Linked DNA regions of Homo sapiens. The protein of the gene in region 1 purifies or fractionates together with the protein of each later gene. This does not show direct contact. Each region holds a gene or a part of one and is shown in the gene's direction. Other genes may lie near its edges.

Evidence for each region.
Region 2: the proteins of UNKL (region 1) and AHCYL2 purify together in Homo sapiens (affinity purification with mass spectrometry; 3 studies listed by BioGRID and IntAct, with this or other methods). This does not show direct contact.
Region 3: the proteins of UNKL (region 1) and PREPL purify together in Homo sapiens (affinity purification with mass spectrometry; 2 studies listed by BioGRID and IntAct, with this or other methods). This does not show direct contact.
Region 4: the proteins of UNKL (region 1) and TRPC4AP purify together in Homo sapiens (affinity purification with mass spectrometry; 2 studies listed by BioGRID and IntAct, with this or other methods). This does not show direct contact.

What each region holds. Positions count from the first base shown.
Region 1 is NC_000016.10:1,369,691-1,376,714, reverse strand, and holds part of UNKL (putative E3 ubiquitin-protein ligase UNKL), read left to right. Parts: intron 1-5,103; coding exon 5,104-5,196; intron 5,197-6,357; coding exon 6,358-6,585; exon of another isoform or gene 6,586-6,708; coding exon of another isoform or gene 6,709-6,781; intron 6,782-7,024. UniProt on the Homo sapiens protein: May participate in a protein complex showing an E3 ligase activity regulated by RAC1. Ubiquitination is directed towards itself and possibly other substrates, such as SMARCD2/BAF60b. Intrinsic E3 ligase activity has not been proven.
Region 2 is NC_000007.14:129,403,018-129,410,041, forward strand, and holds part of AHCYL2 (adenosylhomocysteinase 3), read left to right. Parts: intron 1-361; coding exon 362-468; intron 469-2,079; coding exon 2,080-2,196; intron 2,197-2,818; coding exon 2,819-2,882; intron 2,883-3,360; coding exon 3,361-3,449; intron 3,450-6,458; coding exon 6,459-6,529; intron 6,530-6,840; exon of another isoform or gene 6,841-7,024. UniProt on the Homo sapiens protein: May regulate the electrogenic sodium/bicarbonate cotransporter SLC4A4 activity and Mg(2+)-sensitivity. On the contrary of its homolog AHCYL1, does not regulate ITPR1 sensitivity to inositol 1,4,5-trisphosphate.
Region 3 is NC_000002.12:44,358,492-44,365,342, reverse strand, and holds the start of PREPL (prolyl endopeptidase-like), read left to right. Parts: upstream 1-3,848; 5' UTR 3,849-3,963; intron 3,964-4,668; exon of another isoform or gene 4,669-5,627; coding exon of another isoform or gene 5,628-5,846; intron 5,847-6,851. Other genes in the region: CAMKMT (calmodulin-lysine N-methyltransferase), read right to left, coding at 3,198-3,335. UniProt on the Homo sapiens protein: Serine peptidase whose precise substrate specificity remains unclear. Does not cleave peptides after a arginine or lysine residue. Regulates trans-Golgi network morphology and sorting by regulating the membrane binding of the AP-1 complex.
Region 4 is NC_000020.11:35,005,804-35,012,827, reverse strand, and holds part of TRPC4AP (short transient receptor potential channel 4-associated protein), read left to right. Parts: intron 1-2,539; coding exon 2,540-2,641; intron 2,642-3,649; coding exon of another isoform or gene 3,650-3,662; exon of another isoform or gene 3,663-3,769; intron 3,770-4,080; coding exon 4,081-4,164; intron 4,165-4,960; coding exon of another isoform or gene 4,961-5,000; exon of another isoform or gene 5,001-5,180; intron 5,181-5,187; coding exon 5,188-5,278; intron 5,279-6,252; coding exon 6,253-6,393; intron 6,394-7,024. UniProt on the Homo sapiens protein: Substrate-recognition component of a DCX (DDB1-CUL4-X-box) E3 ubiquitin-protein ligase complex required for cell cycle control.

The sequences.
Region 1 (7,024 bases):
TGGGGGGGTCTTGGAATGTATCCCCCTGCTACAGATCGCAGGGTGCTACTGCAGGGTCCTCATAACCAGGTTAAAATGAGGCCGGTAGGGTGGGACCCTGAGCCAGTGACCAGTCTCCCTATAAGAAGAAACTTGGACAGACACTCGGAAGAGGTGGCCCCCAGAGCAGAGGCAGACACTGGAGCCACGCAGCTGCCAGCCATGAAGGAGGATGGACGCCAGGAGGAGGAGTGCACCCCAGCCCTGGAGGGAGGAGGAGTGTGCCAGCCCTGGAAAGAGGGAGGAGGAGCATCCCCAAGCCCTCAGAGGAGGGAGGAGGAGTGCCCCAGCCCTGGAGGGAGGAGGGAAGAGGAGCACCCCAGCCCTAGAGTGAGGGAGGAGGGAAGAGGAGTGCCCCAGCCCTGGAGGGAGGAGGGAGAGTGGAGGAGGAGCGTGCCCCAGCCCTGGAGAGAGGGAGGAGGAGCGCCCCAGCCCTGGAGGGAGGAGGGAGGAGCATGCCCCAGCCTTGGAGTGAGGGAGGAGGGAGGAGCATGCCCCAGCCTTGGACTGAGGGAGGAGGAGCGCCCCAGCCCTGGAGGGAGGAGGGAGGAGCGTGCCCCAGCCTTGGAGTGAGGGAGGAGGAGCGCCCCAGCCCTGGAGGGAGGAGGGAAGAGGCCCTGCCCGCCACAGATCTCACTTTCAGCCTTGGAGCCACCTGTCCAAGGCCGCTCAGTGCGTGGTCCTCTGCCACTGCCTGCAGTGTCTCGGCTCTGCTGCTCAGCACGACTTCAGTCAGGCTTTGAGGTCTTGCCCTCTTCAGCCATGGCCTGAGAACGTCAAGTGGATGACAGCGACCGGGAGGGCTGGCCCACCCTGCAGGCCAGGGTGGATGTCCGCTCAGGGACGCCACCGTCCTGTGAATGGGAAGGAGAGGAGTGAATGGCTCTGGGTGCGGCTGGCCCAAGGCCTGCCTTTGGCTCCGCCGATGAGCATCCTTGAGGGCTGAGGCATTTTCGGATGCTACTGTGGGTTCCTGGTCCCCAGGGGGTCTTGGCCTGGCTGCCCCGACCCCCAACCTGTTACTCTAGTTTCTGGATAAGACCTTCGAAAGTCCCTAAAAGCTTCATTGGAACGGTGTCTCCGTGGGAGTGGAGGCCACTCCCGCATGCGCCGTGTGCCGTCCCGGACGCCCCAGGGGTTCAGGTTCTCTGCCCTGGGCCCTGCTGCCTCTGTGACGGGATGGGGAAGGACAGTGTTGCCAGGTGGCGCCACAGCCCGGCCTCCACGCCCCGGAAATTCCCTCACGGCTGGCGTGTGGACGAGGGTTGAGTCTGGGTCGTGCTGTGCGGTGGAGTGGGGTGGGGGTGGCCTCTGCCTTGCGGCCTCTGGAGTCCACCGTCCACTCCCGAGCCAGGCTTCTCTCCCGCCTGCCGCTCTGGGTGGTGGAGCACGGTCTCCACACAGTGTGGCTGCTGAGCGCGGCCAGATTCGGGGTGAAGTTCAGAGGCCCGGACCTGCCAGCTGCGCCACGTCCACGCCAGCCTCTGCCTGTGCTCCGCTGGGGCCACCACCGCGGCACGAGGATACTCCGGCTGCCCTGGGGGGCTCGGGGGGTGTGACCGCCGAGCGCCAGGCCTCGGGCGAGGGGCCACCCGCCACCCTGTGGTTGCTCCCATGGTCCCCGTGGCGCTGACTGGTGCCAGCTGCTTCCAGGGAGGAGAAGCGGAGGCCTGGGCAGAGGGGTGAGGTGCAGGCCACGTGCCCCACAGCTGTGTTCCCGACAAATCTCATGTGCGGCTAGGGCAGCGTTCTTCTTCAGAAGTCACCCTCCTGCCTTTCCTGCTGATTATGCTGAAAATGTCTGGAAAGGCCCCAGCTGTCTTCCCCGGCAGAGTGGGGTTTTGTCCCTCTGCGGCCCCTTGGCTGCCGAGTCCTTGTTTCTCCAGCTGTTTTTTGGGATGCCCCCTGTGTGGTGAACCTGCTGTCACCCTGACATGGCCACCAAGTCCTGACGAGTCAGCCCTGCCTGGCTCAGCCAGCTCCCTGCTGGGTGGGGTGGGTTGTGGGGAGTGAGGCTGCAGGAGGTCTGCGAGGGCGGGACTCGATGTCGGGTAGGTGGGGCAGTGACCGCCTCTTTGCTTCTGCTGGGCCCCAGCTTGTCTGAACCGAGCACCAGGCAGGGGCTGGCCAGGCTGTGGAGGTTCCCGGCGCGCCGACCCCCACGGTCGGGTCTGACAGGTTTCCCCGGGGTGCGGTTGCCTGGGGCCATGGAGGGACCATCGGTCCCAGGTGAGGACAGGAGGAAGGGGGTCTAGGGCCCTTCAGGGACAGGCAGGGGTGGCTTTGCCTGTCTCAGAGCAGGCCTCAGCAGCACACTGTCCAGTACCAGGCATCAGTGAGGGTCCAAGAACTTGCAGCCAGCAGGGACGACAGGGCAGGGCCCCCCAGGAGAGACCCCACACAGCGCACATGGGAGAGTGGATGCCAAAGGTGGGCAGCGGGGAGGGCGCCTGCGCAACAGTCCCTGTGTGGTGTGCCCCACGCTGCTGAGGTCTCTGTGCGGTGTTGGCCGGCAGTCCCTGTGTGGTGTGCCCCACGCTGCTGAGGTCTCTGTGCGGTGTTGGCCGGCAGTCCCTGTGTGGTGTGCTCCACGCTGCTGAGGTCTCTGTGCGGTGTTGGCCGGCAGTCCCTGTGCGGTGTGCTCCACGCTGCTGAGGTCTCTGTGCGGTGTTGGCCGGCAGTCCCTGTGCGGTGTGCTCCACGCTGCTGAGGTCTCTGTGCGGTGTTGGCCGGCAGTCCCTGTGCGGTGTGCTCCACGCTGCTGAGGTCTCTGTGCGGTGTTGGCCGGCAGTCCCTGTGCGGTGTGTTCCATGCTGCTGAGGTCTCTGTGCGGTGTTGGCCGGCAGTCCCTGTGTGGTGTGCTCCACGCTGCTGAGGTCTCTGTGCGGTGTAGGCCGGCAGTCCCTGTGCGGTGTGCCCCACGCTGCTGAGGTCTCTGTGCGGTGTTGGCCGGCAGTCCCTGTGCGGTGTGCTCCACGCTGCTGAGGTCTCTGTGCGGTGTTGGCCGGCAGTCCCTGTGCGGTGTGCTCCACGCTGCTGAGGTCTCTGTGCGGTGTTGGCCGGCAGTCCCTGTGCGGTGTGCTCCACGCTGCTGAGGTCTCTGTGCGGTGTTGGCCGGCAGTCCCTGTGCGGTGTGCTCCACGCTGCTGAGGTCTCTGTGCGGTGTTGGCCGGCAGTCCCTGTGCGGTGTGCCCCACGCTGCTGAGGTCTCTGTGCGGTGTTGGCCGGCAGTCCCTGTGTGGTGTGCCCCACGCTGCTGAGGTCTCTGTGCGGTGTTGGCCGGCAGTCCCTGTGTGGTGTGCCCCACGCTGCTGAGGTCTCTGTGCGGTGTTGGCCGGCAGTCCCTGTGTGGTGTGCTCCACGCTGCTGAGGTCTCTGTGCGGTGTTGGCCGGCAGTCCCTGTGCGGTGTGCTCCACGCTGCTGAGGTCTCTGTGCGGTGTTGGCCGGCAGTCCCTGTGCGGTGTGTTCCATGCTGCTGAGGTCTCTGTGCGGTGTTGGCCGGCAGTCCCTGTGCGGTGTGTTCCATGCTGCTGAGGTCTCTGTGCGGTGTTGGCCGGCAGTCCCTGTGTGGTGTGTTCCATGCTGCTGAGGTCTCTGTGCGGTGTAGGCCGGCAGTCCCTGTGTGGTGTGCTCCACGCTGCTGAGGTCTCTGCGGTGTTGGCCGGCAGTCCCTGTGTGGTGTGCCCCACGCTGCTGAGGTCTCTGTGCGGTGTTGGCCGGCAGTCCCTGTGTGGTGTGCCCCACGCTGCTGAGGTCTCTGTGCGGTGTTGGCCGGCAGTCCCTGTGTGGTGTGCTCCACGCTGCTGAGGTCTCTGTGCAGTGTAGGCCGGCAGTCCCTGTGCGGTGTGCCCCACGCTGCTGAGGTCTCTGTGCGGTGTTGGCCACAACACTGGGCTGGGCTGGGGAGGCGGCGCCGGCCCACAGGGTGTATCCCAGAGCTCCTGCAGCCGCTGCGGTCCTCTGGTCTGCCCCAGGTGGCACGTGGGCTCTCAGATCCCAGATCCTCTGGTCACCCCTCACCCCCAACCCAACTTCTGTGCAGTGGCTGCGGGAGTTTGAGACACGCTGTGGCTTCAGGGGCTGGTGGCCTGAGCTCAGCCTCCTCATGATGGCTTCCTAATTCTAGGAAGGGGCAGTGGGGTCCCTGCTTGCCATTCGGGGTTGGGGGTGGGGACTTGGGAGGGAAGGGCCCGTGCAGGAGGGCAGCCCCACGGCCTGCAGGGATGTGTGGGGACAGCCTTGGAAGGCAGGGCTGGCTGGGTGAGGCCACTCTGAGGCGGGTCCTTCCCACTCAGTCTTGAGCCTTGGGAATTGAGGTCTTGGTGCTTGGCATGAAATTGCACGTGAACACCTGCTCCTTGAAATCACCCTCACAGAAAGTTTTTTTTTTGTTTTTGTTTTTGTTTTTTTTGAGATGGAATCTTGCTCTGTCGTCCAGGCTGGAGGGCAGTGGCACGATCTCGGCTCACTGCAAGCTCCGCCTCTGGGGTTCACACCATTCTTCCGCCTCAGCCTCCCGAGTAGCTGGGACTACAGGCACCCGCCACCACGCCTGGCTAATTTTTTGTATTTTTTTTTTTTTGGTTGAGACGGGGTTTCACCGTGTTAGCCAGGATGGTCTCGATCTCCTGACCTTGTGATCTGCCCACCTCGGCCTCCCAAAGTGCTGGGATTACAGGTGTGAGCCACCGCACCCGGCCCTGGAAAGTTTTTTAAACAGTCGAATGTGCACACGTGGACAGATGCTAACACACACTTAGGTATTTAAACTCTGAGGGGCAGCAGCAGCGTGTCAGAGGCGAGGACCCAGCTGCTGGTCTGTGGTGCGGGGCGTCCCACCTGAGCACGCTCGTTTTGCCGGAGGAACAGCCAAGCCTCACACTGCCTGTGGGGGGCTGCGAGGACGGGCTGGGGGTGTCCTTCCCTGGCTGCCCCAGCAACTCCCACGCCTTCTGCCCTTGGTCTCACTCTAAGCCCAGGTGGGACGGTCGTCCTCCTCAGCTAGGCTTCCTGAGCTCTGCAGCGCTGGGTGGGCTGTGGATGATGGGGGGCTCTGTTGACAGGTTCTGCGTTAGACCTGCATCTTAGCAATGTGAATATTGCATCCCTAGAGAAGGACCTGGAAGAGCAAGACGGCCACGACCTGGGAGCAGCAGGTGAGGGTGGGGAGGACCTGGGGCCCTGCTCCTCCAGCCGCTGAACAGCCAAGTGCTGTGGCCGGAGGATCGCTTGAGCCCGGGGAGGTCAAGGCTGCAGTGAGCTGAGGTTGCACCACTGCACTCCTGCCTGGACCACAGGGCAAGACCCGGTGTCTGGTTTTCGGAGCGGGAGGATCCCCTTCTGGCGGTACCTCCTCCTCCTCTCCCTGACTGCCTCTCCCTTTCCCTCCCCTGCACATGGACTCCTCAGCATCTCTCCTGCCTCGGGCCTGCCCACTTCTTCAGTTGACCTTTGTCCCAGCAAAGTGGCCGCGCAGAGACAGGCGGGGCCTTTCCTGAAAGTCTTGATGGTCCCCGAAGGATAAATGTATTCACATTGTAGACAAAAGATTGACATCCATACAAATGTATCTTTTTTTTTTTTTTTTTTTTTGAGACAGAGCCTCGCTCTGTCGCCCAGGCTGGAGTGCAGTGGCGCGATCTCCGCTCACTGCAAGCTCCACCTCCCGGGTTCACGCCATTCTCCTGCCTCAGCCTCCGGAGTAGCTGGGACTACAGGTGCCCGCCACCACGCCCAGCTAATTTTTTGTATTTTTAATAGAGACGGGGTTTCACCATGTTAGCCAGGATGGTCTCCATCTCCTGACCCCGTGATCTGCCCGCCTTGGCCTCCCAAAGTGCTGGGATTACAGGCGTGAGCCAGTGCGCCCGGCCCCATACAAATGTATCTTAACATCGTATACAACATCTTTTCATTCAGCCTAAAAGTGTATCTTTTCTTTCTTTTAAAAGAAAGTAAACCATTTCAGGGGGCCTGGACAAGTGCTGGGAGGACCGTGCCAATGGCTTAGTTGGCCGGCAGGGCCTGGTGGGTGTCCGGCCTCTTTGGGGGGGGCCCATGTTAAACCCCCGTCTCCCCACCTCTGGTTGGAATCCCTTTGAGCCCATGGCTTGCCCAGCTGTGTTGGACATGGCCACCGGGGGCGCTGTGGCTCCAAACACATAGATGGTGGTGGCTGGCCTGGCCCCTATATTCCCACCCCCCATATCCCCACCACCACCACCTGCAGGGTCCGTCTTCCACGGCTGCCGCCCATGGCAGATGTTTGGGCAGAGGCCTGGCGGTACTCCCTTCGCTGACTGGTCCGCCCCCGCCAGGTCCCAGGTCGCTGGCCGGCTCTGCACCTGTCGCCATCCCCGGCTCCCTGCCCAGAGCACCATCGCTACACTCGCCATCCTCTGCGTCCACCTCGCCGCTCGGTTCGCTGTCCCAGCCCCTCCCAGGGCCGGTGGGCTCCTCAGCCATGACGCCTCCCCAGCAGCCGCCACCCCTGCGTTCAGAGCCGGGCACACTGGGCTCTGCAGCCTCATCCTACAGCCCCCTAGGTGAGTGCCGGCTCCCTCCATGCTGGCGTTGCCGTGAAGCCTCCGTGGGGCTCCCTCCCAGATGCCGTCCTGACTGAGGGGCCTCACACGGAACCTTGTGCCCTATCTGTGGTGGCAAACCACATGACCTGCTGCTCACAGGTTCCCCCACGCCGCAGACCGAGTCTCGCTCTGTCGCCCAGGTTGGACTGCAATGGTACGATCTCGGCTCGCCGCAACCTCCGCCTCCCAGGTTCAAGCAATTCTCCTGCCTCAGCCACCCAAGTAGCTGGGACTACAGGCGGGCGCCACCACGCCCAGCTAGTTTTTGTATTTTTAGTAGAGATGGCGTTTCATCACGCTGGCCGGGCCGGTCTCAAACTCCTGACCTCGTGATCTGCCTGCCTTGGCTTCCCAAAGTGTGGGATGACAGTGAGCCACCGTGCCCGGCTATTTGTTA
Region 2 (7,024 bases), on another chromosome or scaffold:
GCTTTCTGAATACCTATAGTAGATTCAAGATCTAGTGGCCTAGTAACTACAAGTTACCAATCCATAAGAAAATCCTCGGTTAGTTGCTGTATATTTTGATACAGTAGATATGTCACGGGGAGGGTCGTTTGGCTGCGCGAATTACAATTGGCCTTTCTCCTCTCATTGTCTTTTACTTCAATATAATGACTATTTGGCAGATTATTGTATTTACTCTGGCTTTAAGTTACTTTGCATAACCATATGGGAAATTTTAAATATCTGTAAATTGCTAATTAGATTGGGATGCAAGACCCAGAGAAGCACTGAAGCCTTGAGACTTCAGCAAAGTGAATGATGTTATTGATGCTTACTATTGCAGATCTTGGATGATGGAGGGGATCTTACCCACTGGATTTATAAAAAGTATCCCAACATGTTTAAGAAAATCAAGGGCATAGTAGAGGAGAGTGTTACTGGAGTTCACAGGTAAGATTTGACATGGGCATACCTGGTTTTATGCAGTCTAGACATAAAATCTTATAAACACATACCTATAAAACACATGTTAAAAATTGGAGCCTGGGCCAGGCGCGGTGGCTCACGCCTGTAATCCCAGCACTTTGGGAGGCTGAGGTGGGCGGATCACGAGGTCAGGAGATCAAGACCATCCTGGCTAACACGGTGAAACCCCGTCTCTACTAAAAATACAAAAAAATTAGCCTGGTGTGGTGGGCGCCTGTGGTCCCAGCTACTCGGGAGGCTGAGGGAGGAGAATGGCATGAACCCAGGAGGCGGAGCTTGCAGTGAGCAGAGATCATGCCACTGCACTCCAGCCTGGGTGACAGAGCGAGACTCCATCTCAAAAAAAAAAAAAAAAAAAAAAAAAAAAAAATTGGAGCCTGCTATGAGGTAACCACATCTCAGCTTGCTATGAGGTGACCAGATCTCAGCTTGCTATGAGGTGAGCAGATCTCTCTTGTTTTTTTTTTTTAATTAACAACACAAATAATGAACCTAAAATAGTGAGAAGGGGGCAGGTGGGAGAACAAGTGAAGTCCTCATGTTTTCTAGTGATTGTAAACAATTAACTTGTCCTTTTTGGACACATATATTCATTCATTCATTCAACAAATATTTATTGAACTTCTACAATGAATGAGGAACTGCTCTAGATGCTAGGAATCTAGCAGTAGACAAAACAGACAGAAAAAAACTCTGCCATCTTAGAGCTTACATTCTTACATGGAGAGCAAGGATGTAGGGTTCTGCTTCTCAAATGAGTAATAATTCTCTGAGTAAAATTGGAATTATTTCAGTTCAATTTCTGTGATCATTTCTATGATTTATTTCACCCATAAAGAACTAAAAGTATGAAAAAAAAAAGTTGTAGGGAAGTAAATTCTGAACCAGCCACCATCACTGCTTCAATACATTATCATCTTTTTGAATGTACAAAACTGAGGTCAGGAGTTCAAGACCAGCCTGGCCAACGTGGTGAAACCCCGTCTCTACTAAAAATACAAAAATTAGCTGAGTGTGGTGGCGGGCGCCTATAATCCCAGCTACTCAGGAGTCTGAAGCACAAAAATCGCTTGAACCCTGGAGGCAGAGGTTGCAGTAAGCTGAGATCACACCATTGCTCTCCAGCGGGGACAACAAGAGTGAGACTCCATCTCAAAACAAACAAACAAACAATAAAAGCACAAACAGCCAGGCGTAGTCTCATGCACTTGTAGTTCTGGCAGGCAGGGAGACCAGTGCAGATTTAGTGAACATTGTACCTAGTAGGTAATTTTTCAACCTTCAACCCGCTCCCACTCTCCCACTTTTTATAGTCTCCAGTGAAGGCCTTAAAATTTAGAGGTGGGTCAAGGATTTCCCCCACATGACTTTTGAATAAAATCTTTATTGTGAAGCTATATATGCAGGCTCTAGAAAGATATTCTTTATTTCTCAGTGGCCACCTAACAGGATGAAACTAGTCATGTCTCATGGTCTCATGCCTACCCAATCAACGTATTTCTGGGGCCTCCTATGAAAGCAATGGTAGATTGTAATGTCCTGGTGTTTTTTGTTCTTGGCTTCCCTCATCCTCAGGCTGTACCAACTGTCCAAAGCTGGGAAGCTGTGTGTTCCAGCCATGAATGTCAATGACTCAGTCACCAAACAGAAATTTGACAACCTCTACTGTTGCCGTGAATCAATTCTTGATGGGTAATGTTTATTATCTTTGAGATGAAGTTGTGATGTCCAGTTGAGATTCTAAGTTTTTTGGCTTTGGTTATTTCTGGAAAGGATTCATGTAGCACCTCTGGATAATGTCTCCATAAAGCCAGAGCTTTGTCACCTCATAAATTAAAATTACATTATTTTTATTTTCTCCTTTGTATCTTTTCTATTTCTAAATATTATATTTTCAAAATATTATCTAATAAATGTATGTTGCTTTTATGTTTAAAAGTTACTGTGTTATCTACATCTTCTTCCTTTCTGCACCACTTGCAAGAAAGGGGAAAAAAAAAGGAAAAAAACCCTTACATATAGGATTGGTTAGATGGCAGGGAGTGAGAAAATATGTATTTTATTTAACCTTCCTGTCTGGTCATTAGTTTCTCTAGGATAGAAACCAGACTTTCAGTGTTACAGGTCTTTTAGAATTTGTCTAGCAGGTTTTCTGGTCTTTACCAGAAAACCCCTTTAAAAAAATAAAGAAACCAGACTTTCTTTCAAAATGAAAAACCAACCAAAAAACCCCATGAAAACAAAGAGATTCAATCTAACCTCAAGGGAGAAACAAGAGAAGATTTTTCTGATTTAATGTTTTTTTTTCCCCTAGACTTAAAAGGACAACAGACATGATGTTTGGTGGAAAGCAAGTGGTAGTCTGTGGCTATGGAGAGGTGAAGTTTAACCTTTTGTTTATTAGGTGTTTTAAATGGATTTTGTTGAAATATTCTGGAATTTTTTATTTGTATGGACATATGAGTACACCCTTTACCACTTTAGATGAGAAAAAGAATTTCAGAGGCCTTCTGGTTGAAGTAGACTTTCTTTTTCCCTTTGCGTTGCCGCCATTTTCCCTTAAGTTGATTTTCTGACTTGCTCCAGTACCACCGTTTGTGATGTTCTTTTTAGCTTGTGTTTTAATTATGAATCGTGAGTGTGGGTGTTCTTGTGCACATGAATGCGATAAGCAGGAGCCAGGGGTTTGTTTATGAGCTGCATTCAATTATTTGTTCTTCTCGTTTTCCCCAAGTATGAATCTATTCAGTGAAATTCCTCTCGGGGGTGGAAAGAGGGGGTGCACTTTACCAGAAGCTTTGAGAAATGGTTTTCTCAGTGACTTTCCTTAATATGTGTGCTCTCTCCCCTCTTCAGGTGGGGAAAGGGTGCTGTGCTGCCCTGAAAGCCATGGGCTCCATTGTGTATGTAACTGAAATTGACCCCATCTGTGCCCTGCAAGCCTGGTAAGCCTCTACGCTACCATCTCACTTGCAATCTCGGAGCTGTCTCCAAAGAATGGCCTGGTTGATGCCACACTTTATTTTAGAGGAGCCCAGATCCTCAGAGATGCTGCCACTAACTCTAAGCATCTGTCTTTTAAAAAGGTCAAGGAGCTCTGCTTGGAGAGAGCAGAGACTATCAGAAAAGCGAAAATTTAGAAATCCTGTGGAGATAGTAACAGGGATTCTGTCAGCCAGAGAACAGGTAGCCCCTTACCTTCTCCATGTATGATACTTGCCTTTCAAATAATGATCAGAAAAGAAATTGGCAGGCATCAGATGCCTTCTGATGTGTTACACTGAAAATAGCCCTTCTGTGGTATTCCTCCCAAAAATGTATAACCTGAATCTAATTGTGAGGAAACATTAGACCAATCCCAGTTAAGGGTAAAATCTACTAACTCTGAGTGAAGCATATATGAGAATTATTTACACTAGTATTATAATTCTTAAGTTTGAAATGATTCTAAAATTAAAAGTTAAAACTTTTCTTATCTATAAAATGTGTGTAATCATACCTACCTCATAGGATTGTGAGAGTTCAGTAAAATAATAATTAGCATAGGCTGGGTGTAATGGGTTCATGCCTGTAATCCCAGCACTTTGGGAGGCTGAGGCAGGAGGATTGCTTGCGCCCAGGAGTTCGAGACCAGCCTTGGCAACATAGGGAGACCCCATCTCTACAAATAATTTTTTTAAATTAGCTGGGTGTGGTGGTGCATGCCTGTGGTCCCAGCTACTTGGGAGGCTGAAGTATGAGTATCACCTAAGCCTGGGAGGTGGAGGCTGCAGTGAGTTGTGATTATGCCACTACGCTCCAGCCTGGGTGACCCAGCAAGACCATGTCTCAAAATAATTATTATTCTATATTATACATTATATAACAAATACATAATTATATAAGGTACAGAGCTGCTGCCACATAATATATGCTCATTAAATAATAGCTGTTATTAAAATTGTCTCTTGCCATCCTCAGCAGGGTGGGAAATACCACTGTTCTTAAAAACTATTGCAGAGTCCAAGTGTCTGTAGCCTAGGGGAACCATCATCCTTCTGGTACACTAAGAGTTTAGGAACCTGAACATATTTTAATACAAATTGATACTGTTCAGATACTGAACAGTTCAGATTATCCTGTTCAGATTATCCTGTAGACACGAATTGATCACTTACTATGCATTAGATACTGTGCTATGTGCTGAGAATGAATAAGATGAATATATAAATGAGATAAGGTCCTGCTTTTAGAAGCACACAGACAGATAACCACTGTGCAGCAAAGTAAGTGCTGTCATGGAGTTAAACGGCACATGCTTCTGTAGGAGCATAAAGGAGAAATTGCTTACTGAAGAGCAAGGGAGCAGGGTAGAAAGAGATGTCAGCAGAGCTGAGTCTTGACATTTGTATAGGTGTTTTCTTAGTTTGGAAGTATATTCCAGGTACTGGGAACATGTGTGTTGTCTCCAAGGAAGGAGATAGCATGGCAGATTTAAGAAGCTAGAAATATTTTAATGTAGTTGGCAGATGAAATACATTTGGGGGAGTGGTACTATCTAAGGTAGGAGTCATGGGAGTCATATGTCAATATAATCACATATCACTGTAAGTATTTGGGTCTTACTCTTATCCTGTCTTATCCTTAAGAACAGGCAGTCTCACTGAAGTATTTTAAGGAAAGGAAGCGACATGATCCAAATTGCATTTAGGAAAATCACTCTGCCAAATGATTTAGAAAGATGTAAACCTAGAGGCAATGAGATTGGGCCAGGGGTTACTATAGTAATCTAGGCAAGAAGTAATAAGACCTAAACTTAAGCAAGGCCAGTATGTATTAGAGAAGAGTAGAGAGATGAAAGAGACGTTTATGGAATTAAAGAAAAAGAGTCACCCAGATTTGGTGACAACTTCAATTCAGGAGAGGCAGCAAGGACATTCTTGTTTATATGGCTCATTCAGTTGGATGAACAGTGATGCTATTGATCAAGATAGAAAATATAGAAGAAGAAATAGATGAGATTATGGGTGCAGAGAAAATAATAAGTTTATTTTCAAACACAGTAAGTTTGAGATCCTTCTGGGACATTGATGAGGTGCTATCCAGTGGCTAATTTGATCCTTGGCTATGAAGCTTCAGAGAGATCTAAGCTAAAGTTACAAATGTAAAAATCAGCCATCTATCAGCAGTCATTTGCAGCCAAAGGAAGAGTATGGTTCTCTATACTGAAAGAATAGAGAAAAGAATAAAGGCATAACCCTGCAGAGCACCAATATCCAAAGGTTGGCTGAAGTTGAGGAGAGGCAATTAAGAGAAGTAAGAGGAAAACCAGGAGAGATGTATCATGGAGTCCAAGGGGTATAGAGTTTTAAGAAGGCAAATAATGTTTAATGTAGTAGAAGAAATCAAATAATATAAGAGTCTAAGAAGTTGGGCATGGTGGTGTATGCCAATAGTCCTGGCTACTCAGGAGGCTGAGGCAGGAGGATTGCTTGAGGCCAAGAGTTAGAGGCTGTAGTGCACTATGATTATGCCTGTGACTAGCTACTGCACTCCAGCCTGGGCAGCATAGTGAGATCCCATCTCTAAAAAAAAAAAAACACACACAGTTAAGAGTCTAAGAAATCTTGGGTTTGGCCTTCGGGGGATCACTGATGATCTTGGAGAGAGCAGTTTCAATGGGGTAGTTGGTTAAATGGCTAAGTGGCACTTTCTACAGTTTCTAGAAATTTGGTCAGGGAATCTCATGGTAGCCCCTGGCTCCCTATTATCAGGAAGAAATAAGTTCCGTGATGCAAACGAACCTTTTATTTCTGTCTTGTATGAACTAAGGAAATTGTTTGGATTTTTCACTTCTAAGAATAGTTCAGCTATCTCAAGAAATGACAGCAACTTGATATTAGCTTTTGAAGTCCTGTGTTAAAAGGCTCCCCAGCTGCCTGTTTAGGTTAATGGGTCATGCTTTATTTCAACAGTATGGATGGATTTCGACTGGTGAAATTAAATGAGGTCATCCGACAAGTGGACATTGTTATTACCTGTACAGGTATGATAATGACATTTTAAATGGGGTGGCACTTGGGAATGTTTTTATGGAGCAGGTGCAAGATGATTGGAAATATTCTGAAAAACCAAACTCTAAAAGCTAGAGAGAGATAGTAGCCCACAAAGCCAGCCAGTCTTTCACATTCTTCCTAATTCTTTAGAGCTCCGACCAAAGGTATACGATTAGGTTATTCCTATGTAAAAATGTTTCTCTTCACCCTTGAAGACAACTGTTATATCTCCATTCATCCTAGGAGATAGCTAGAGATGAGATTCACTTATAAAGTTTTATTTGGGAAGCCAGATATTTTTTTTTTCCAAAAATATATTTATTTTTAAAAACAGAAAATCAGATCAGTTTTATAGAGTCAAATTTTCAAGAGACAAACCAGAGTTTGGATTCCAGCTTAGAGTGCAAGTGAAGCATCAGTAATCTCATGCAGAAGATTTGTCTCTGCAGGAGGTACATTCTGCTTGACTGCAAGCACTCAATTCT
Region 3 (6,851 bases), on another chromosome or scaffold:
TCTCTCAAAACCTATGTTTTGTTAATTACAAAACACAGAAAATACTGAATAGTTAACATAAAGTAAAAGGCCATGAGACAGCCTTGGAGCTCTATAGGGTAATGGAAAGACAGAATTTTAAAGGAAAAAACAAGTAGACAGAGCAGATGTTCTTCAGATGTCCCACGAGCGAGAAAAGGAGTCACATATCTCTAGCACTGCTTAGATTCCTTATAGTTTTCCAGTACTAGATGCATATAGGATAGGAATGGTTCATTCATTTGAAATACATTTACTAAGAGCTTGTAAATGTTTAATATATGTGATCGATTAAATTGTAATAGAAAAATATTCACTTCCTCTTTGTCACCTCCAAGGAAGGAGTTGTATTTCCCTGCCCCTTGAATTTGGCCTTTGCCAAATATCTTACTTTGGCCAATAGGAAATAAACACATGATGTGAGCAGGGGTTTAAAATGTGTCTCTGTGGTTGGGCTTGCTCTTATACCTCTGCTATCACCATGAGGACTTCAGCCCACTAGTCCAAAGATTAGAGACATATGGACCACATGTGCATCATAGAGATACCCAGATGACTACAGCCTATGTCGGTCAGCTCCCAGGTGGCCCCCAGATGCACCAACAAAATAAATACTAACTGTTGTATGCCACTGTGATGTTGCGGTTCTTACTTAGCAATAGCTTACTGATAAAATACACTAAGGACTAGGTGCTATGCGCCACTTAAAGACTGTCCTTACTCTCAGGCTTTCCACAGACACTGAACAACATCTACTAAAAATCAATTAACCAGGCCCTGTGCTAGGTGCAGAGGATGTAAATTAATAAAACATCACCTTTTCCCAGGGTGAATGCCCATTCTAGTAAGAAAAAGAGACCCTGATCACATGATCATAAAATAATATAAAGGGCTCATTGGTAGAGTTGGCTGAGGGTCTAACTTAGCCCAGAGGCATTAGGGGTGGCTTCACAGAAGAGTAGTTTGAAATGGAAGTGTGAAGAATGAACAATCATTCACCAAGTAGAGAAGATAAAAAGACTATAAGCAGGCAGATATATACCAAAAGTTTCGATGTCAGAACGTGTGGGGACTTCATGTAACAGCCACAGCTGAAACTTGTCACTGTTTTCATTTAGACCGCAATTTAGAATGAACATAAGTGCTGTAGTTTTTACTATACTGAGAATCACTGAAAGCCAGGTATCATGGCATACCCCTGTAATTCCAACTACTCAGGAGGCTGAGGTGGGAGGATTGCTTGAGCCCAGGAGTTACCTGCCTGGGCAACAAGCAAGACTCTATCTTATTTAAAAAAAAAAAAAAAAAAAAAAGGAAGGGTGGGGGCGGTGGGCGTGGCAGGCATGGTGGCTGATACCTGTAATCCCAGCACTTCGGGAGGCGAGGCAAGTGAATCACCTGAGGTCAGGAGTTTGAGACCAGCCTGGCCAACATGGCGAAACTCCGTCTCTACTAAAAACACAAAAATTAGCTGGGCGTAATGGCGAGCACCTGTAATCCCAGCTATTCGGAAGGCTGAGTACGGGAGAATTGCTTGAACCAGGGAGGCGGAGGCTGCAGTGAGCCGAGATTGCGCCATTGCACTCACGTCTGGGCAACACAGTAAGGCTCTGTATCGAAAAAAAAAAAAAAAAAAGAAGGGGGTTGCCGGGCACGGTGGCTCATGCCTGTAATCCCAGTACTTTGGGAAGCCGAGGTGGGTGGATCACCTGAGGTGGGGAGTTCGAGACCAGCTTGACAAACATGGAGAAACCCCGTCTCTACTTAAAAAAAAAAAAAATTAGCCAGGCGTGGTGGTGCATGCCTGTAATCCCAGCTACTGGGGAGACTGAGGAAGGAGAATCATTTGAACCCTAGAGGCGGAGGTTGTGGTGAGCGGAGATGGCAGCCATTGCAGTCCAGCCTGGGCAACAAGAGGGAAACTCCATTTCAAAAAAAAAGGAGGGGGGAAGGGGGGTTGAGTCCACTCTCCCCAGCTCACGCCAGATCTCATTTCAGTGGTCACTATTAAAAAAAATTAGATATTTACTTTATTATAGATACTTCCTATGATGATCTGTGAGGACATGCATTTTCTTATCCTGTAATACCATTTGTAACAATAGCAAAACCAGATCATTACTGGTCTGGAAAGACTGTCAATGTATCAGCAAATAAATCTTAATTAACTCTGATGATCTACTTAACTCATAACTCTAAAAGCACTAAAAGACCACTGTATGAAAAGGTGACTCAAGGCAACTGCAAACAAAGTGATCCCCAAAATACTAAAAGCACAATCTCAAGTAAAGTGGCAATAGCTGGGAAACTCTTTTCCAAACACAACTGTCAGAAATGGAAAAATGTCCTCCTGAGTAAAGTTTTCGGCAGAAAACTTCAGGCAGAGGCATAACACTGCTATGCAAAAACAATAACCAGACTTCACTTCAAGAAGTGAGCGAAGAATGTGAGTGATCATAAATCAGAACTTCCGTCAAGCTTGCACGAGTGGAGTTGTAAGTAACAGCAGAAACTTTGAAGTACCAGAAGATACCATCATTCAAAAACGAACACACTTTGACTAGCCCACCTTGGACACGGAGAATCTCGCTGATCACTACAAACTACAAGATAATCATTTAACTTTGAGACCTCAGTGAGAGAGGGTATCAGCTTTTCCTACTCCTTGCACGCTCCGCTGTACGGAAGATGCCGAGGGAACGCATGCCGTGTCTCAGTCCCGGCATAGTCAACCACGCTGGGCAAAAGACGGGGCCAGAGGGTGCAGACGAATATCGGTAACTCGAACCAGGCTGGGAGTTAAGCTAGAAGAAACTGGGGAAGGAGGCAAAACAGAAGCAGGAAAAGAGCAGTGGGGAGCGGCGGGCGCACCAGAGACTGGCGAGAAGGGGAAAAGTCCCCCAGACGCACAAAAATGTCTAGAAGGGGTTCTTCTACTTCGATCTGAGTTTCCCAGGAGCTCAGCCTTGGCTGTCCCGCTCCCCACCCAACCCCACATGATTCCTCCTCTTGGATGGGACGCTTAGGTGAAGCGAGGGGGAGCTTCGCAGGTGGCTCCCGGCAAACTGAGAAGGGTCTCCCAGAGCTGCCAAGAGGAAAGAACTGCGAACAGTCGCTCCCCCGGTACGTGAGAGAGGAGTGACCAGAGGCAAAGGTGAGGCGAGCAGGTTCTCCCTTACCTGCCGCAGGAGCTTCCACCGGGCGGCTCCCAGGGGCGCCGAGACTACGGGCCCCCGAGTGGTGCAGCCAACTGCCGGACTCCCGCCCGCTGCTCGCGCGGTCTCGCCGGTCCCAGCGTCCGCGACTCGCGACTCCATCTCACTGGAGCCTTCCACACCCGGAGGTGCCACCGCCGCAGCTCGTCCCCTGCCAGGACCTGCCAACTTCTTCCCTGTCAGGACCTGTGACGCCCGGCACCCTCCCTCCACCGGACCAGGCATGCGCGCTCTCCCCGAATTCCGCATTTCCGGTACTCGCATCTCCTTGGCAACCAGGGCCGAGCTGTCACGCCATTGCACCATTCTTGCTGGTAGCCATCTTGAGTGAGGGCGGACCAGAGGATGAGAGAGCTGTGGCAGGGCTACTGGAACGCTGTCCCTCATTGTTTTAGCCTTCTGTGCTTCATCTCGAGCTCAGAAGACTAGCGAAGAACGAAAAGTCTTATATATTTCGAGACTAAAGAACCCAGGAACCCAAGAAGACTCCTTGACCACAACAAAGATGGCGAAATCTGCCTGTTGCTCGTGCTAGATTGAGGTTACGTAGATTGGCGTGCTGCAAACCAGCTCTAGGCGGCTCTGGGTAAGTTGTCGTTCTGTGGGCTGCGGAACGCAGACTTCGGCTGGACTTGCCTGCGGTGACACCTGCTCCCCTCTGAGAGCTTCAGGTTCTCCGGCCTGCCTTCACTGGTTTGTGTCCAGAGCCGGACTGATTCTCTCAATTTGCGTATGTATGGGGGGTGTGCTGGTCTCTTTCCTTCTCCCCTTTCTCCCCCCGCCCAGCCACCCACCCCTCAGTCCCCAGGTCCTCGCTTTTTGACTAATGTCCCGGCACTGCGTGCGTGTCACCTGGTCCCTCTCCCTGTTGCATTCAGATCGCCTCATCCCTGGGGTGGAGAGTTGCACGGGGTAAACGAATAGGTTCTCCTGAGAACACCCATTTATCTACCCCACCCCCATCCTAGCCTTGCATACTGTCTTCTTGGGGATGAAAGATGGATGGATAAAGGCTGTGGGAACGTGGTGATGTAGGACCTTTGCAGGTCCTTGTTATTCGGGTCTTTTTTCCCCTTTTTTTACTAGTGTCGGCTAGTAAACTAGTGTTGCTCCCCTACCCCCAATCGCCCATTATTTTGCTGCGACATGGAAAGGGATTAAGGGGGGCGGGGGCGTCGTAGCGCATCTGATCTATGGTAAATTTGACGCAGCATTCTACCTTTGATACCAGGGGGCATTTTGTGGAAGACTTCCATAATGACATTCAGCGGTGTGCAACATACCTAGATTATTCCTGTCGTAAATAATAGCAACTGCCATTTATTGAGTGGTCACTATGTGCCAGGCACTGTATGGTCTTAATGTTAAGCTGTCTCATTTTGTCTTTACAACAACAACCCTAGAAGGTAAATGGTGTCATTTCATTTTTGCAGATGAAGAAACTGAGGCCCGGAGACACAGTTAAGTGTAGGAGCTAAGACCTCAACCCAGGTCTCTCTGACTCTTAACTACTTATTAGCAATCAAGGTTAATAAAAGCTACCTCCTGACAAACCAGAGATGGCCTTACATTTTATTTGTGCATCTTGCAGGGGTTTTTTGTTGTTTTTAATTAAAGCGCTAAATACCTTTTTAACATTAAAAATCCGAAGTTGAGTATGTCCAGTATTTGGAACCGAACCAAATTGGATTTTTTGCTATACAGCTTACTGTACAAGTGACCTGGAACAGTTGCTTAGAACCTCCCACAGCCACAGTTTGGCAACCTGTAAAATGTGCATGGTAATATCTACTTTATTAAGTCCATATAAAATTTAAATTAGACAAACAAGATAAAAGCACCTGGCAGTTAGTTAACACTCAACAATAATTAATCTTCCCTCCCCCACCTTTATTAAATAATTAGGCTTTTCCAGTTTATCTTCCACATATATACCAAAGATACGTTCATAATTATGTAAGACCAAAGGGCTTTTTACCTTTTACAGCCCTGAGTTCCTGAGATACCCCATTAAGTCTGTGTACTTATTTGCAAATTTATATTTTGTTTCTTGTTTTGTTTTTTGTTTTAGTTTAACCCCTATGTGTGCCAGAGTCAGTGCTGCATAGTTTGAGCCTGATAGGATTAACTTTACAAATGAGACATTTAAGTCACATCTGCCAAGAATTATGATTTGAATGAAACTTTAACTTACACAGGTTTTTAGATTTAGTTAGCCTAAGTTATCAGCTGTCTGAAGTTATTCATAACCTAAGTGGGGCATGGCCCTGAAAAGGAGGGATGAGAACTGCTGATCTTAGTTACTCTGAGAACCCACTACTCTGTAATCATACCTATAAAATCATTCGTGTGCTGGCAGCCCCAAAAGGAGCATAAACCAGGGACTTTGATATCATGCAGCAGAAGACCAAATTATTTCTCCAAGCTTTGAAGTATAGTATTCCTCACCTTGGAAAATGCATGCAGAAACAGCATTTGAATCACTATAACTTCGCTGATCATTGTTACAATAGAATAAAATTGAAAAAATATCACCTAACCAAGTGTCTTCAGAATAAACCCAAGATATCAGAGTTAGCAAGAAACATCCCAAGTCGGAGCTTCTCATGTAAGGTATGGACTGTTTAAGTTAACCTATTTGTAGGTCATTAAGATTAATTTTAATTTAAAAATAAAGAATGGGTAGAATATCAGAGCTACTAATTTTCTCAGTAATTCTAACTTGATTTTTCTAATTTTCAAGTCTCAATTGTCTCTAGTCAAAAGTAAGTATAAAAGAGTATATACATCGAGGCAGGCAGATCACCTGAGGTCAGGAGTTCGAGACCAGCCTGGCCAACATGGTAAAACCCTGTCTCTACTAAAAATACAAAAGTTAGCTAGGCGTCATGGCACCCACCTGTAATCCCAGCTACTTGGGAGGCTGAGGCAGAGAATCTCTTGAACCCAGGAGGCAGAGGTTGCGGTGAGCTGAGATCGCACCACAGCACTCCAGCCTGGGTGACAGGGAGACTCTGTCTGAAAAAAAAAAAAAAAAAAAAAGTGTATACATATATTTATAGGGCTCTAATGTAATATATAAAAATGTAGGTTTATAAAAAATGATTCACCTCAGGACTTCCTTAGTATGCCTGCCAGTGCATTTCAAAGTATAATTCGGCCTTCTAAATTTCCTAGAACACTAAATTATAGCTCTTAATAAAATCTAATGATACGCTAATTGTTTTATGAATCACAAATCAGTAAACTTCAGTAAAGGCCATGAATTGTATTTTATTTCTCTGTAAAAAAATGAAAAATAATCTTGCGTTTTTGACCACTTGAGTCATTCAGGAAGACACTGTCAGAGTATTGTACTTCTGCCAGACCCCAAGCTGTGGGCGTGAACTCAACCTTAAGGACCTGATTGCCCTTATATAGAGAGTAACCACATAACCACTTTTGCCTGGCACAGCTCCAGCCTACACCTGTTGTCCCTGTGTAATTATTAATAGTGTCCCCTTTCCTCTCAAAAGTGTCCTGGTTAGAATGGTAAATTATATGGTCATCCTACAGTAAGTAGGATTAAATGATCTATTTGTGCTGCTGCTGCTTTGACATCCCTCTCCTACCTTTTAC
Region 4 (7,024 bases), on another chromosome or scaffold:
TTATGGCAGGCACTGCCCCAAGCTTTCTTCTAACCCTCATAGCCACCCCAGGAACTGAGTATGGAAGTCGTTGGCCCCTTACTACCTTTGGAATCAATGGATTTCTCAACCTACTGCCCCTCTAAAGCAAGAGTGGACAGCGTGGCTATTCCCAGGGGCCGGCAGGAACTTCAGACAGGCAAAGCCGACTGCTTACTGAGCAGCTGGAGGATTCTTCCCTCCACAAGGAGGTGTGCTCCCATTTTTCTTGAAAGACATTCTGCGCTCATTTATTTTTTAACCTTCGATGGAGAATGTACAAGGAAAATTACTCTCTGCTGTAAGGAAAACAGTGCAGGAAGGGGGTGACTAGCAGCTGACCCTTGACCTTGGCATTGGGGAGGTGATGTGGGGACCTTAGTGAACAAGAATTTCAGTGAGCTCAGCTCCAGCCAGCTGCGTGTGCACAGGAAACTGGGCCCACTGTTGCATAACTTCTGATTTTTTCTGCCAAGCAAAGGCAGAAATTAAGATTTATGTGAAAGGTCCTGATTTTAAATGTTGGTTTAAATATTTTAAAAACCTTGCATTTGAGCTAACAGAACATGCCTGGAGACAGCTGTGGCCCCAGGGCACCTCCATCATATGCACCCATCCTCTGTGAGAGGTTTTCCGGCTGAAAGCCATAGAAGGGCTCCAGGAAGCATGTTAACCTTCTGAAAAATGGCACCACATATGTTATGGAACTGTGCTGTTTTCCCTGAGGAAGTGAGTCTCTGGCTTTCATCAGACTCTTCAGTCTGAGTACTCTGTGGGATATCAGGATGAATGCAAACAGCCATGGCCCCTGCTCTCATGAAGGGCAGAGTCTGAAAACAGAGACAGTTGTTCATCCAAGGATTCCACCGTTGAGCATTAGTGATAAGTGGAGATGGTATTCAGGAGGAGAGGAACGGGGTCTGTGAGAGACATTTGACAGGGTCCAGGACTGGCCAGAGGACACTCAGGAACTCTCCCCTGCAGAAGTGGCTTGCCAGCCAAGACCTGAAGTGTCAGCTTGTAGTGAATTGAGTGAACAGGCATGTGAGAGGGTGTGTGTTCTAGCCAGAAGCCCCTGAACGAGGGAAGACCATTGTGGCCAGCTGATGGGAGTGATGTGGGCTTGGCTCTGGGCTGGGCTGCACAGGACGTTGTGGGTCACAGTCACAGGGTGTTGTGGGTCACAGTCACAGGCCTGGATTTTATATACAGATGGTCCACTTAGAATTTTTCAACTTCACAATGGTACAGAAGTAGAATTTTGAATTTTGATCTTTTCCTGGGCTCATGATAAACAGTTCAATACTCTTGCAATGCTGGGCACTGAGCTGCAGCTGCAGCTCAGAATGTATTTCAAGAAAAATGGTGACCAGCTACACGATCACCAAGGTAGACAACCAGTACTCTGTGCTGTGCCTGCCGTGTTGCCAGTGATTATGGCCAACTGTAGGCTGAAGTCAGTGTTCTGAGCACATTCCAGGTAGGCTAGGCTAAGCTAGGAGGTTCAGTGGGTTAGATATATTAAATGTGTTTTCTTTCTTTTTCTTTTTTTCAAGACGGAATCTTGCTCTATTGCCCAGGCTGGAGTGCAGTGGCATGATCTTGGCTCACTGCAACCTCCACCTTCTGGGTTCAAGCAATTCTACCTCAGCCTCCTGAGTAGCTAGGATTATAGGCGTGTGCCACCACGCCCAGCTAATTTTTTATATTTTTAGTAGAGATGGGGTTTCGCCACGTTGGCCAGGCTGGTCTCGAACTCCTGACCTCGTGATCCACCCGCCTGGACCTTCCAAAGTGCTGGGATTACAGACGTGAACCACCGCGCCCGGCCTCAATATGTTTTCAACTTAACGGCATTTTCAAATACGATGGGTTTATCAGGACATAACCTCCTCCTAAGTCAGGAAATGTCTGTTCTAAATGCAGTGGGAAGCTGTGGAAGTGTTTTCACCGGGAGTGACAGGATCAGAGTCCTGATTCTGAAGATCACTTTTGGCACCGTGTGATGACTCAGTTCCTGTGGGATACCTTTTAGTAAAGGGAGCTGGTGTCCTGGGAACACAGGACCCAGCAGTGACAGGCCTGGATGGCAAGTCGGGGGAAGTGTCACAGTTAACCAGGCCTCTGTGTGATGTGTGACCGTGGTGCTTGGTGGGACTGCTGCAGCAGGGCCAGGCTTGAGTGTGATTGGACCTGTTGAGGTGTTGGTGCCTTTGAGAAAACAAGTGGAAATGTAGGCAAAGAGAAAGGCCCAGAGCTGCTGAGGGAAGGGGCCTTGTCGATGAATGTGGCAGGCAGGGGTCGGGGATGGGGGTGGGGCCAGGGAGAGATTCCACTGCCTGAGAGCCCAGAGTTCCCTCCTGCAGGTGCTGGCTGGAGTGAGAGGTGCTAGAGGAAAGTGCCTGGTGGCTTCTCAGATTCTGTCCACAGGAAGTGGGCAGGAGACTCCCTACACTAGCCTGGTGCTGACCCAGCAGCCCCAGTTCCTGTCCTTTACCTCCTCCAACCCATTTTGTTTCAGGAACAAGTACTTGTTACTCAACAACCAGGAGCTGAATGAACTCAGTGCCATCTCTCTCAAGGCCAACATCCCTGAGGTGGAAGCTGTCCTCAACACCGACAGGTGAGTGCAGGGGTGCAGCTTTTCCCTCAGCCCATCCCGGCTGCCCACGTTCCCCGGGGGCTCACCGGTGAGCACATCCAGGTATGCACGCGTGTCCTCTCTCACATGCAGCTACAGTGTCCTGAGGGCTCCTGTGTGCCAGGCATTGTATTCATGTCACCTGCATTTTCTCATTGGAGCCTCACAGCAGCCCTAGGAGGGGAGCCCCATCAGTACCTGCACTTGACAGATGAGGTGAGCCTCAGAGAGGTCACCTGCCAGAAGTCATGTGTGCTCCGCACTGCCCCACCGCCTTGTCTCGTGCATTCAGCCCCTTTGCTTATGTGCTCCTTTCTTGCCTGGTGGCATCTGCAGCCAAGCAGGACAGACAGAAGCCTCTTACCTGCTGCCAAGTGTTAGGTTGCATTACCTGGGTTAGGTTTGCCTCACCTGGAGCCAGGCAGTGGGGGGCTAGTCTCACAGGCGTCAGAATACAGTGGACTTTATCCAACAAGAGCCATGATTTCCCAACCTTTTTTGTTTGTTTGTTTTGTTTTGTTTTTTAGACACAAGGTCTTGCTCTTTCTCTCAGGCTGCAGAGCAGTGGTGTTATAGCTCACTGCAGCCACAAACTTCTGAGCTCAAGTGATTCTCCTGCCTCAGCCGCCCGAGTAGCTGGGACTACAGGTGTGCGCCACCATTCCCAGCTAGTGTTTTTACTTTTTTTTTGTAGAGATGGGGTCTCACTATGTTGCCCAGGCTGGTCTCGAACTCCTGGCCTCAAGTGAGCCTCCCAAAGTCCAGGGATTACAGGTGTGAACCACCTCTCCTGGCCTCCCAATCTTTTTTTTCTAAGGTAGCAGAACTCTTCATTCAAATAAAATTGTACCCAGTCCTGCCCTGATGTCTGCAGTGGATCACAGCAGAGCTGCTCTGTTTGAAGGGCCCAGACCCCTGCGTGCCTGGCCGTCTTCCTTCCCCCATGACGGGGCCAGAGTCATTTCCTCATCTCCTGCCTTTGCTTCATAGACTGGGAAGCTGAGGCTTGGAGTTGTGGACACTTGCCCAAGGCCAGCTGGAAGTGAACCTCAGGCACGGAGTACGCTGGGCCTCACCCTATTGGCAGAGTCTTTCCCCATCTGGCAGACTGGCATGACCTGTTTCAACACACTTTTGGTATAAACAGCTCTCCTCTGGCAGTTCTAAGCCATGTCTGATTCTGGATATGTTTCTGGCCTGGGAAGGAAAGCTGGCCTGAGATGTGGTGGGAATGCACTTGGCAGTTTAATTCTGTGGCTGCAGGGGTCTCCGGGGCTCTGGACCCAGTTGGAGCAGGAAGGCATCCTGCAGACTTGGAAATGTCCCCATGGTTTTTCACCGCCTAAGCCAGCAGAATGACCCATCCCCAGGGCCCCTGTCAGCCTCTCAGATCTGTCACCAATATCTCTCTTCTATTTCAGGAGTTTGGTGTGTGATGGGAAGAGGGGCTTATTAACTCGTCTGCTGCAGGTCATGAAGAAGGAGCCAGCAGAGTCGTCTTTCAGGTGAGTCTGGGGAAAAGTACCTGCCGATTCTGCGGGGCTGCAGAGCCAGGTGTTTCTCAGGAGGTTAGGAATACCTCCTTTAGTCACCAGCGTCCATGCCTCCTGAAGCACAATTACTGTTGGGGAGAGGTGGTTTGACTGCCATCTTGTGTAGTTTTGACTCGACAGGTATGTGAGAGCTTCTTCTGCAGCCCACAGTGACCGAGCATTCACCAAGCACCTGTTCTGTGCTGGTGCCTTATGGGTGGGAGAGAACTAGGATACGGGCCCTGCCATGAATTCCCTAGAGCTGTGCTGTTTCAATGCAGTGTGGGAAGGAATGGAGCCAGGGTTGGCCCAGGAGCTATAGCAGCAAAGGAAAGCCTCTTCCGCTGCTAGGGCTGGGGGCTGGGTGAATACAGGGAGACCTTCTCTGAGGTCCTTAGATACATCTAAGATGAGTCTTGAAGTCAGTGGACAGGTAGAGTTCCATCAGGGCCGGGCGTGAGCTGTCAGGAGGCTTCATGCCCACATGGGCCTTTGTCACTTCAGTGCCTTGTCCAAACTCCCTGTCGTGGATACCCGCTGTGCCCTCTGGGTCCCTCGGTCAGCATCAACCACTACTTCCCTAGGCCAGCCCATCGTCTGTGAGCCCAGTGGCCTGTCTGCATGTGTTCGTCCGCTTCCCACACACATTCCTGGCCCCTCAATTGCACGTCCTCCCATTCTTGTGAAAGGGCAAGGCCTAGAGTATGTTTCACGGGGGCTCGCAGGAGCCAGCCCTTCGATCCCAGATGTTACCCTTTCTGTGACACAGCCCCTTCCAGACAGACCCAGATAGAAGACTTCTCCACTGAGCTGGCTCTCTGTGAGGATGGGGGCACTGCTGTGTCCCCAGGCCCAGGATGAAGCCTGATGCTTGGTAGATGTTCAGTAAATGTTGAGTACATGAAAAGGCAACAAACATCTCCCAACCCCTTGGAGAACTGAACATGGGCCGGAAGAGGGCAGCCTTAGCCACCTGAGCCAGTATTTGGGTCGCAGGTTTTGGCAAGCTCGGGCTGTGGAGAGTTTCCTCCGAGGGACCACCTCCTATGCAGACCAGATGTTCCTGCTGAAGCGAGGCCTCTTGGAGGTATGATCTGGAGCAGCCAGTGTCTTGGGTTCCGTCTCCCCCCAGCCCACGCGTTGCTGTGTCCTGTCCTGAGCCCCAAACAGTTCATCAGGAGCAGAGCAGATCTCGTGACTTCCAAATGCCTGTGCAGGCTGCCTTAGATTTTGCCCTGGGTTTCCAACTGTGGGTTCCCCATGGGTGCTTACGGGGTGACAGGTTTAGAGGGTGGCCAGGCCATGCAGGAGGGTGACAGTTTGGTTACCCAGCAAGGCATTTTGACCCTGAAGATATTTTGTACTAAAAGTTAATTTTCCTTTATTGAATAATGGTCTTCAGAAAAAGTAAAACTTAGAGCAGAATGGCCAAAGTTATAATTGGTCTTTCAGATTTTTTCATATGGACAAGAAACTGACCCACGAATTATAAAATCCATGTGGAAAAGAATTGATCCAAATCAATGTAACTTCAAGAAAATGTAGAAAACTTTATAAAGGAGTAAATTGGCTTTATTCTCTTGATGAAAACTCAGTATTTTGGTGTAAACTCTATTTAAACAATTTCGTTCATAAACACAAAGACAAACCATGGGGTCAAAATGTGTCCTTTGCTTTTAAATTCTGTCCTTCATTTACTTGAATGACCTCAGTGCTTAGGCAGTGGCCTGTGTTTTAGACCTGGTGATGACAGCTCCCCTCACCTAGGAGCTGAGCACCCCGGCCATCTTGGTGACCACAGAGCAGGTCACAGGCTTCAGCTGTACGCCCTGGGCAGGGGAGAGATTGTGCTGCATTCCCAGTCTGCTCCACCTCCTGGTGAGGTCTGTCAGGCCTGGTCCTGTCCTTGGAGCCACCAGCATCCTCAGACAAGAATCTAGACAGTGTTGCCAGTTCCATCCCCAGGATGCTTGCTCAAAGCCAATGCATGGTCTGAGCTCCATGCCAGGCCCTGGTGGGGGCAGCCACGTTGACACCTTCACCCTGTCCCTCCTCACCCAGCACATCCTTTACTGCATTGTGGACAGCGAGTGTAAGTCAAGGGATGTGCTCCAGAGTTACTTTGACCTCCTGGGGGAGCTGATGAAGTTCAACGTTGATGCATTCAAGAGATTCAATAAATATATCAACACCGATGCAAAGGTAAAGTTAACCCAGGGCTCTGTGGAGTGTGCTGGGTTGTCCAGAAGTTCACCTGGAGTCCTGGTCTGCCAGGCTTTAGGCACAGGTTTTACGTTAGAGACGACGGGGGAGTCTGGGCAGTCTTTGGCAAACATTCATTGGAACCTGCTCTGTCTGGCTTTGTGCTAGACCCTGGGAATGCAGGGATGAAAACCGGGGCTGCTTGTGGGTAGGGAGTGAGGGTGGGAATGGGTGGCTTGTGCGCCTGCCGTGACGCAGCATGGTGGGTGCCACGGTGGGAGCCGCTGTAGGGAGGGACTGGGCCTGGTGTGTTAGGCTCACCGAGTGTGTGTGACAGAAACCCAGCTCAGGCTAGCTGAAGTAAAATTAAAAGTAAAAATTAAAGGAATCCAGCACCCTTGAGCGTAAAACCACTGGAGAGAGTGTCGGATCTGTGCTGAATTCCGGGGAGTGCCTCTTAGTACCTGGGTGGTGAGGGGAGGTCCCTCAGCTTATCTGAGCCTCTGTCTTCCTATCTGAAGCAGTGGGGCTGGTAGAGGTCGCTGATGCCCCTTGTAGTGACTATCCCCCCGGGCCATGGCCATACCTGGCCAGCAGCCCACTGCCTGCTGTGAGCTTGGTTTCTGTATAG